2 linked regions of the Homo sapiens genome follow. The protein of the gene in region 2 purifies or fractionates together with the protein of the main gene of each other region. This does not show direct contact. Each region holds a gene or a part of one and is shown on either strand. Other genes may lie near its edges. The genes, in order: CACNA2D3 and RAD51C.

Evidence for each region.
Region 1: the proteins of RAD51C (region 2) and CACNA2D3 purify together in Homo sapiens (co-immunoprecipitation; one large-scale study listed by IntAct). This does not show direct contact.

The regions. Positions count from the first base shown.
Region 1 is NC_000003.12:54,120,948-54,125,411, reverse strand, and holds the start of CACNA2D3 (voltage-dependent calcium channel subunit alpha-2/delta-3 precursor), read right to left. Parts: upstream 2,861-4,464; 5' UTR 2,699-2,860; coding exon 2,577-2,698; intron 2,356-2,576; exon of another isoform or gene 1,970-2,355; intron 1,900-1,969; coding exon 1,818-1,899; intron 1-1,817. UniProt on the Homo sapiens protein: The alpha-2/delta subunit of voltage-dependent calcium channels regulates calcium current density and activation/inactivation kinetics of the calcium channel.
Region 2 is NC_000017.11:58,699,088-58,702,894, forward strand, and holds part of RAD51C (DNA repair protein RAD51 homolog 3), read left to right. Parts: intron 1-3,807. UniProt on the Homo sapiens protein: Essential for the homologous recombination (HR) pathway of DNA repair. Involved in the homologous recombination repair (HRR) pathway of double-stranded DNA breaks arising during DNA replication or induced by DNA-damaging agents.

The sequences.
Region 1 (4,464 bases), on a different chromosome or scaffold from region 2:
AACATGACAAAAGCAAAGCAAAGCTAGTGAATTCAATATCAGAAAGGATGCTGATGAGAAGGTAAGAGAAGCATTTCAGCCTTTTCCAATTTGCTGTTATAGAGTAGCAAATAATAAGGTTGACGGAGTTTTGTGCAGTGTGTGTGTGTGTGTGTGTGTGTGTGTGTGTAACTTCAAAGAGAAAGAAAAAAACATATTTAATGTGTTCCTAGAAAATGTGGGATAAAAGATATGAAAGCACAACCAAAAAATATTAACAGGCTCTGAAGGGATTCTTTTAGAGTTGCTACAACTACAACGTGCAGATGAGAAATACTTCTTTAAAGTTATACAAAATGTTATCTTCTTTAAAAGCATAAGAAAAATATAAAGGCAATGCTACAGTCCAGAATTCATCACATCAAACATCTGACAAGTGGGCAAAATGCCAAAGCAGGAGACAGATTGGTCCAGATTAAAAGAATACTAGGGAAAGAGGCAATTCCTATGCAATTCCTTTAAGTGCCGAGGTGGGCCACAGGTATGTAAATTCTCATCTTCCACGAGGGCATTTCGTAGCCTCAACTGTTTACCAACTGCCTATAATTCAAGAACACCTTCCCAAACAACAGAGTTGAGCAAGCAATCTTTCAATGAATAAGGTTTCAATGAATAAGGCTATTGGCGATTTTTAAACCATAATAACTTTTGTCATTCCATGGTGGGCCAACGCTTTATTACGATATTTGGATTTCATGTGGCAAACTGTTTCATATACTGTCCCCAAAAATGCTACTCTCTGAAGGGGAATGCCATAAATAAAATACGTACTTGGTTACCAGGCAGCATGCATAACACATATGGTACATTGGCCCAAAAATCATATTTTAAAATGTTTAAAAGTTAACTTAACAATTTAAGCTGTTTGTACCCATTTTCAGAGAATTATTCCCTAAAGGCCAATTTTATTTTCTATCATCAAGAGAATACTTTGATTAATCCTGTTGATCTGCTAACTTGAAATTCTTTGAACCCCTCTAATCTCTCCTCCCAGACCCATTTTTTTTTCTTTATTTCCTGAAGGGGAGAACGAAGGACCATTTATCTCACAATGTAATTTTAAGCTTATGCTTAAAATGCTGCCTATTTGAATTAAAATTGATGCAGCTTGTGATAAGAACCTAATAATCAATTCTCCATTCTCATTACTCTCCAGAATTACATGGATGCAGACCCATTTCTTAAGTTTGTGGACTACTCTCATAGGTTATTACCCGGCAGTGCAGCTGAGTGGAAAGATAACCACATTCATTCTCCTTATCTGCAATGATGTAATGCATCCTAGCCCTGGGTCTAGATGATTGGGGAATAATGGGATTGTACAACTGCAGGGATGACAAACAATAGTGCAGCGTCTTTCTCTGATACACTGAACCCCACGCCTCCAACGCAAGGTGAAAGGCATCACAAAATAGGCACTGAGTCTGCCCCTTGGATGAAGTTAGCATTTTTTGGCCCGAGGAGCATCTGCTCTGGCACTGAAACAGCAATACCGACACGGAGACGAGAGCCATGCAAAAACACTCAGTTTCCGAGCCCCAGCCAGGACAGTGCGAGTGAGTATCCTGCTTTTCTTTGTGGTTAGAATCAAGTGTCATCTAAAAATAACCGGTTGGTAGGAAGAAGTCACTGCATAGTACAATGCCAAGAAACCCGGGGATCAGAGAGTCCTCCGATAACTGATGCTGCTCGGGGCTCACGTTTGTTTGGAAAACTAAATCTGCCTCCATTTTCTGTGCCGGAAAAATCATCGCTTCCTGCCACCACAGAAACCTTACCTTTTGCAGAAGCTGGGAACCGGAGTACTTAGCAGCAATGGATTTTATCTCCCCACCAAAAGCCGAGGCCCAGAGCTTCACCCTACAGGGAGAAGGGGCACAGGAAGATATGTAACACCCGTGTCACAGTCAACACGCACGCACACGCACACGCACACATGGGACTATGGCTGAAGGAGCAGTGCGATGTAACATGTTTTAAAAGAAGAAAAGATAGAAAAAGCGGCTTGGTAGAAACTGCCAGCACCAAAACTGCAAAGCGCAGCGCGGGAGGGGGCCCGAGGGGGGTCGCGGAGTTAAGAATGCGCAAAGTCTCCCAGGCTCTCTAAAAAGACCACTGAGTTTCATTCGAACCACTGCCCGAGGACTCGACCCCCCAAACTGGGCATCACCTGGCAAATAGCAGTCAGAAGAAATCCACCCATCCCCCCCCCAAAAAAAGAAGTGGGGCGGCAGTAGAGCAAAGAGGGGGGAAATTCAGCGGCCCATGGAAGTTGGATTCGGTAACCAGGCTCCAAAGTTGGTGCCGTCACTTGAGGTGAGCCTCTCCAGATCTCACTCGGCAACCTGCGGGCAGGGGCCAGAGCATCCCACCCCGGCCTCGCCGCCCGACGCGGGTCCCGAAAGGCAGGTGCGAGCGGCGAGGCCGACGCCCGCGGCGGGTCCTGCCCAGCCGCACCTGCAGGCGCCCAAACTTGGGCACAGTGGGTCGCAGGCGGCAAGGTCCCCTCCCCGGGCGGCGCAGGAGCCGGCACTTACACGGAGAGCGGTATCTGCTGCTCCGAGCGCACCACGTCCCCCAGCGCGGCGTAGAGAAGCGCGGCAGCGAGAAGCGCCGAGGCCCCCCGGGACGCGCGGCGCGGCGAGCCCGGCCCGGCCATGCTGGGCTCCCTCCGACGCGCCCGCTGCGGCGGCGACGAGAGCGGCCGCGGGGAGCTGCGCGGAGCGGGCGGTGGGCGAGCGCGCGGGGCTGCCTGCTCCGCTCCGCGCCGCCCCGCCTGCCTCTCGCGCGCCCGGCTCACTTGGGGAGCAGAAAAAGGAGCGGGTGGGGGGGGCGGGGAGGGCGGAGAGGAGAGGGAGGGAGGAGAGGTGGGGAGGGAGGGAGGAGAGGTGGGGAGGGAGGCGGGCGGGGGAGGAGGCAGCGAGACGCGCCTCTAGCAGCAGCAGCCGCCCGGCCCCGCCTCGGCGGCCCCGGGGAGTCCGGCGGGCCGCGGCGGGAGGGCGGCGGGGCAGGAGGCGCCGCGCGGGCGGGGACTCGGAAACTCCAGTGTCCTTGGCCGCGGCGGAGCGCGCCCTGCCCCACCCGGGCTACTGCGGCCGCTGAGTTCTTTACAACTCCGCAGTCCGCCACCGCGGGCGCGACTCTGGGGCTGGCCCCGGGCCGGGCGACCCTAGCCAGGGTGGGGGTTGGGGGCGCGGGAGGGAAGCCGAGGGCAGGGCGCGGCGCTCCGCACTTTGCGGGCGGCTGCTAGGAGAGGGCGTAGCATGCCCGCTCCGCCCCTGGGCCGGGCGGGGTCGGGGGCCGCGGAACCTAAAGGGGGCGCGCCCTCCGCCCCCGCCGCGCGATTCTCCTGCGGGGAGGGAGCTGGGGAAGAAGCAGAAATCTCAGAAAGGAGCACAGGCTCGCGGCGGCAGGCGGGATCGCACGCGGGGCGGATCGGGCTGGGGATGGGACTGGGTGGGAGCTCGGGGCTCTGGCTAGGGCAGCGCTGCGTGACCGCCCGCAGCTGCTCCTCCGGCCGCGGCGCCCGACAGGGGAAAGCACGGAGGGCGGTGCTGCCACCACGGCTTGGGCGCACCAGCGCGGGGCTCCCGGCATCCGGCCGCAGCGCAGCGGCCCCCTGCGCGCCCGACCCAGGCCCCGGGGCTCCCCAGCGGCCGCTGCCTTCGGAGTCCGCCCGGCTGCGGTGACTGGTGGGGACCGGGATGTCAGGGTTGAGCGAGGAAGCCAACGCGGCGCCGAGTCGATCCTGACCGGGGGACACCCTGGATTTCGGGATAAAAGATTTCTCCGAGCCTGGGGGATTGCCTGCTCCCCACTCCGGCGCCCACCGCACTGGGCAGGAGGCAGTGAGCGCCGGAGGAGGCGCCTTCTCGCCGCCCTCAGGGGCGAGGAGAAAGGAAGCCGGAGAAGCCCCTGCGCGTTCTGGGAACCAGGCTTCTCCCCGCCTCTCTCGCCGCTGCCCCCACCCCGGGACCCAGCTTGCAGAACCCCTCTCCCCCGTGCGAGGTATGGGGTGTGATTGGGAACTTTGTGGAGCCCTCGCGCAGGCTGGCGGTAAAGACCGACCGGAGTGAGGCTGAGTCATCCTTGCCCGGCCAAGCGCAACTCCGGTGACCCCAGCAAGGAGTGCGCTCCTAACGTCGCCGGGGCTCCCGGCGCACCAGACACCTGGGTTCATATTTGCATGCCTTTCTGCAACCAGGGCTTTGCTTTCTGCCCCGTCACCCGCCCTTGGCCTCAGCATCCTCAGGTTGCAGGGAAGTAAGGGCGGGCTCCAGCTTCCGCCAGGTGGTGTCCGGCTAGGAGCCAGGCCGGCTCTCCTTTCCAGTAGTCCCTGGAAAAAGTTACCCCTGCAGATGTTGGGCTTGATCTCAGAGTTGGCAGCGAGGGAGAAGGACTGCTACCGAGAGGCTCTTAGTGCTT
Region 2 (3,807 bases):
CCTCTGCCTGCTGGGTTCAAGCAATTCTCCTGCCTCAGCCTCCTGAGTAGCTGGGACTACGGGCATGTGCCACAATGCCCGGCTAATTTTTTGTTTTTTTAGCAGAGATGGAGTTTCACCATGCTGGCCAGGCTGGTCTCGAACTCCTGACCTTGTGATCTTCCCGCCTCGGCCTCCCAAAGTGCTGGGATTACAGGCATGAGCTACAGCGCCCGGCCTATTGTTTTCTTTTTCTTTGTTTTATTTATTTTTTGGATGTGCGGTCTTTATTCTTTCCAATAAAAGTTTTAAAAAAAATGCTTTTCATAAGATTTCCTTTAAATGAGTATATTTCCTTTAAATGAGTGTAGTCAGCTGGATTTTTTTTTTTCATGGAGGTACTAAGTGTCCCATTTCGCTGATGACCAGCATGGTTACTGAAAGCCCTTTGGACCCTAGCAGAATATGCCACCCTGAAATATGCCACTTTGGCATAAGGATTATTTTGAGCTGAAGGCAATTGAAAAGAAACAGATAAATCTGTCTGCCCTTCCTAAAAACAGGACATAAATGCACAGAAGAGTTCCATCTTCCCTCTCTTACAGGAAGACAAAAGTTAATCACCACAGACAACTTTAGACCATTATCAGCGTACATAACAAATTTTACTAGCTATCTTTTATCTCCAGTTAGTTTCAATATTTGCTGCCTTTAGAGACTTAGGGTCCTTTTCCTTTGTCTTGTTACTTCTCTAAAAATTTACTGTACCTTCGGGACGATAAGCTCAAATCTTTTTTTTTTGAGACAGAATCTGGCTCTACCGCCCGGGCTGGAGTGCAGTGGCGCAATCTTGGCTTACTGCGACCTTCACCTCCCAGGTTCAAGCGATTCTCCTGACTCAGCCTCCTGAGTAGCTGGGAGCTGCGAATACAGGCACGTGCCACCATACCTGGCTAATTTTTGTATTTTTAGTAGAGACAGAGTTTCATCATGTTGGCCAGACTGGTCTCAAACTTCTGACCTCAAGTGATCCTCCTACGTCGGCTTCCCTAAGTGCTGGGATTATGAGTGTGAACACCTGTGCCCAGCTCCAAATCTAACCAAACTTTTGAGTTACTAATCTCTGGACTCCCCTGTGTTGTTACATGCACTATGCACAATTAATAAACTCTTTCTCTTGTTAATCCATCTTTTGTCAGTCCGATTTACAGGGCTCCAGCCAAGAAACCTAAGAGGGTGGCAGGAAAAGGAGTTTTTCTTCCCTTATACCTTAAAGCTACCTATTTCACAATGTGTGTTTGTAATAGTGTCTTAAAACCTTACTGTAACTAGAGTAGGTGTAGCACTAGGATATAAAGTTTTTATTTTTATTTTAATTAATTAATTTATTTTTTAAGATGGGGTCTCAGTCCATCATCCAGGCTGGAGTGCAGTGGCGCGATCTGGGCTCACTGCAAGCTCTGCCTCCTGGGTTCACGCCATTCTCCTGCCTCAGCCTCCCAAGTAGCTGGGACTACAGGCACCCGCCACCACGCCTGGCTGACTTTGTATTTTTAGTAGAGATGGGGTTTCACCATGTTAGCCAGGATGGTCTCGATCTCCTGACCTCATGATCTGCCCACCTCAGCCTCCCAAAGCGCTGGGATTACAGGCGTGAGCCACCACACCTGGCCTAAAGTTTTTAAATGATTGATATGAGATTAAATTGTCATTGTTTTGGTGAAAATTTGACTCTGCTAAGTGTCTATTTGCAATAGGAAATGTTTTCTATTTTAAAATATAGCTTCTTGTTTTTTCAGTGTTAATATTTAAGTACATTTTATTTATTTTTAATATTTTACTTTTTGTGAAACAGGGTCTCACTTTGTCATCCAGGCCGGATTGCAGTGGCATGATCACAATTCACTGCAGCCTTGACCTCCCTGGGCTCAGGTGATCCTCTCACTTCAGCCCCCCAAGTAGCTGGGGCTACAGGTGGGCACTACCATGCCCAGCTAATTTTTTTTGCATTTTTTGTAGAGACGGAGTTTCACCATGTTGCCCAGGCTGGTCTTGAACTCACGGGCTCAAGAGATCTGCGTGCCTTGGCCTCCTAAAGTGTTAGAATTACAGGCGTGAGCCACCACGCCTGGCTAAGTGCATTTTAAAATGCAGTAACTGGCCGGGTGTGGTGACTCACTGCCTGTAATCCCAGCACTTCGGGAGGCAGAGGCAGGCAGATCACGAGGTCAGGAGATCGAGACCATCCTTGCTAACATGGTGAAACCCCGTCTCTACTAAAAATACAAAAAATTAGCCTGGCATGGTGGCGGGCGCCTGTAGTCCCGGCTGCTGGGGAGGCTGAGGCAGGAGAATGGCATGAACCCAGGAGGCAGAGCTTGCAGTGAGCTGAGATCACGGCACTGCACTCCAGCCTGGAGGACAGAGCAAGACTCCGTCTCAAAAAAATGAAAAAGAAAAAATGCAGTAACTGATTGGTTTCTCTCTGAAATATGTGCAAAATCAAACTTTTTTTTTTTTCTGAGACAGAGTCTTGCTCTGTCGCCCAGGCTGGAGTGCAGTGGCGGGATCTCAGCTCACTACAACCTCCGTCTCCCGGGTTCAAGCCAGTCTCCTGCCTCAGCCTCCCGAGTACCTGGGATTACAGGCATGCACCACCACACCAAGCTAATCTTTATATTTTTAGTCGAGATGTGTTTTACCATGTTGGCCAGGCTGGTCTTGAACTCCTGACCTAGTGATCCACCCAGCTTCCCAAAGTGCTGTGATTACAAGTGTGAGCCACCACGCCCAGCCTCAAACTGTTTGTTTTAAACATCCAATCTAAGAAAGATTTTATATAATTGTTGCCAGTTAAATATCAAATTATACTATAGCATTCAAGAGAAAAAATGCTTCATTTGAACATTTTTTCTAACTGTGTTTTATTTTTTTGTTTTTTTTTTTGAGACAGAGTTTTCATTCTGTCACCCAGGTTGGAGTACAGTGCCGCTATCATTGCTTACTGCAGCCTTGACCTCCCAGGCTCAAGCAATCCTCTCACCTTAACCTCCTGAGTAGCTACGACCAGAGTTGCACACCATCACACCTGACTAATTTCTGTATTTTTTGCAGAGATGGGGTTTTCCATGTTGCCCAGGCTGCCGTTAACTCTTAATTTGTAGTCCTATAGAAAAAAGCAAGAAAGAGAAACTTCCATTATGTTACTTCTGTTCAATGAAGCCAGTGACTAGAAATATGAAAAGGCAGGCATTAAAACACTAGTTGTATATGTTTATAAATAATTTTACATAGCCTAATATGTAAGGAAACAGTGGAAAAATGTGAAAATAATAGATCAGGTCGGGTGTGGTGGTTCATGCCTGTAATCCCAGGCGTGAATTTGGGAAGCTGAGGTGAGCAGATCACTTGAGGTCAGGAGTTCAAGACCGGCCTGGCCAACAAGGTGAAACCCCGTCTCTACTAAAAATACAAAAATTAGCTGGGCATGGTGGCGAGTGACTGTAATCCCAGCTACTCAAGAGGCTGAGGCAGGACAGTCGCTTGAGCCCAGGAGGCAGAGGTTGCAGTGTGCCAAGATCGCATCACTGCACTCCAGCCTGGGTGACAGAGTGAGACTTTATCTAAAAAAAAAAAAAAAAAATCAAGTGGCTGGGCACAGTGGTTTATGCCTGTAATCCCAGTGCTTTGGGAGGCTGGGGCAGGAGGATCCCTTGAGCCTAGGAATTCGAGGTTGCAGCGAGCTATGATTGTGCCACTGTGCTCCAGCCTGGGCGTCAGAGTGAGACCTTATCTCTAAACAGATTAAGAGAGACATCAGGTGGGGGG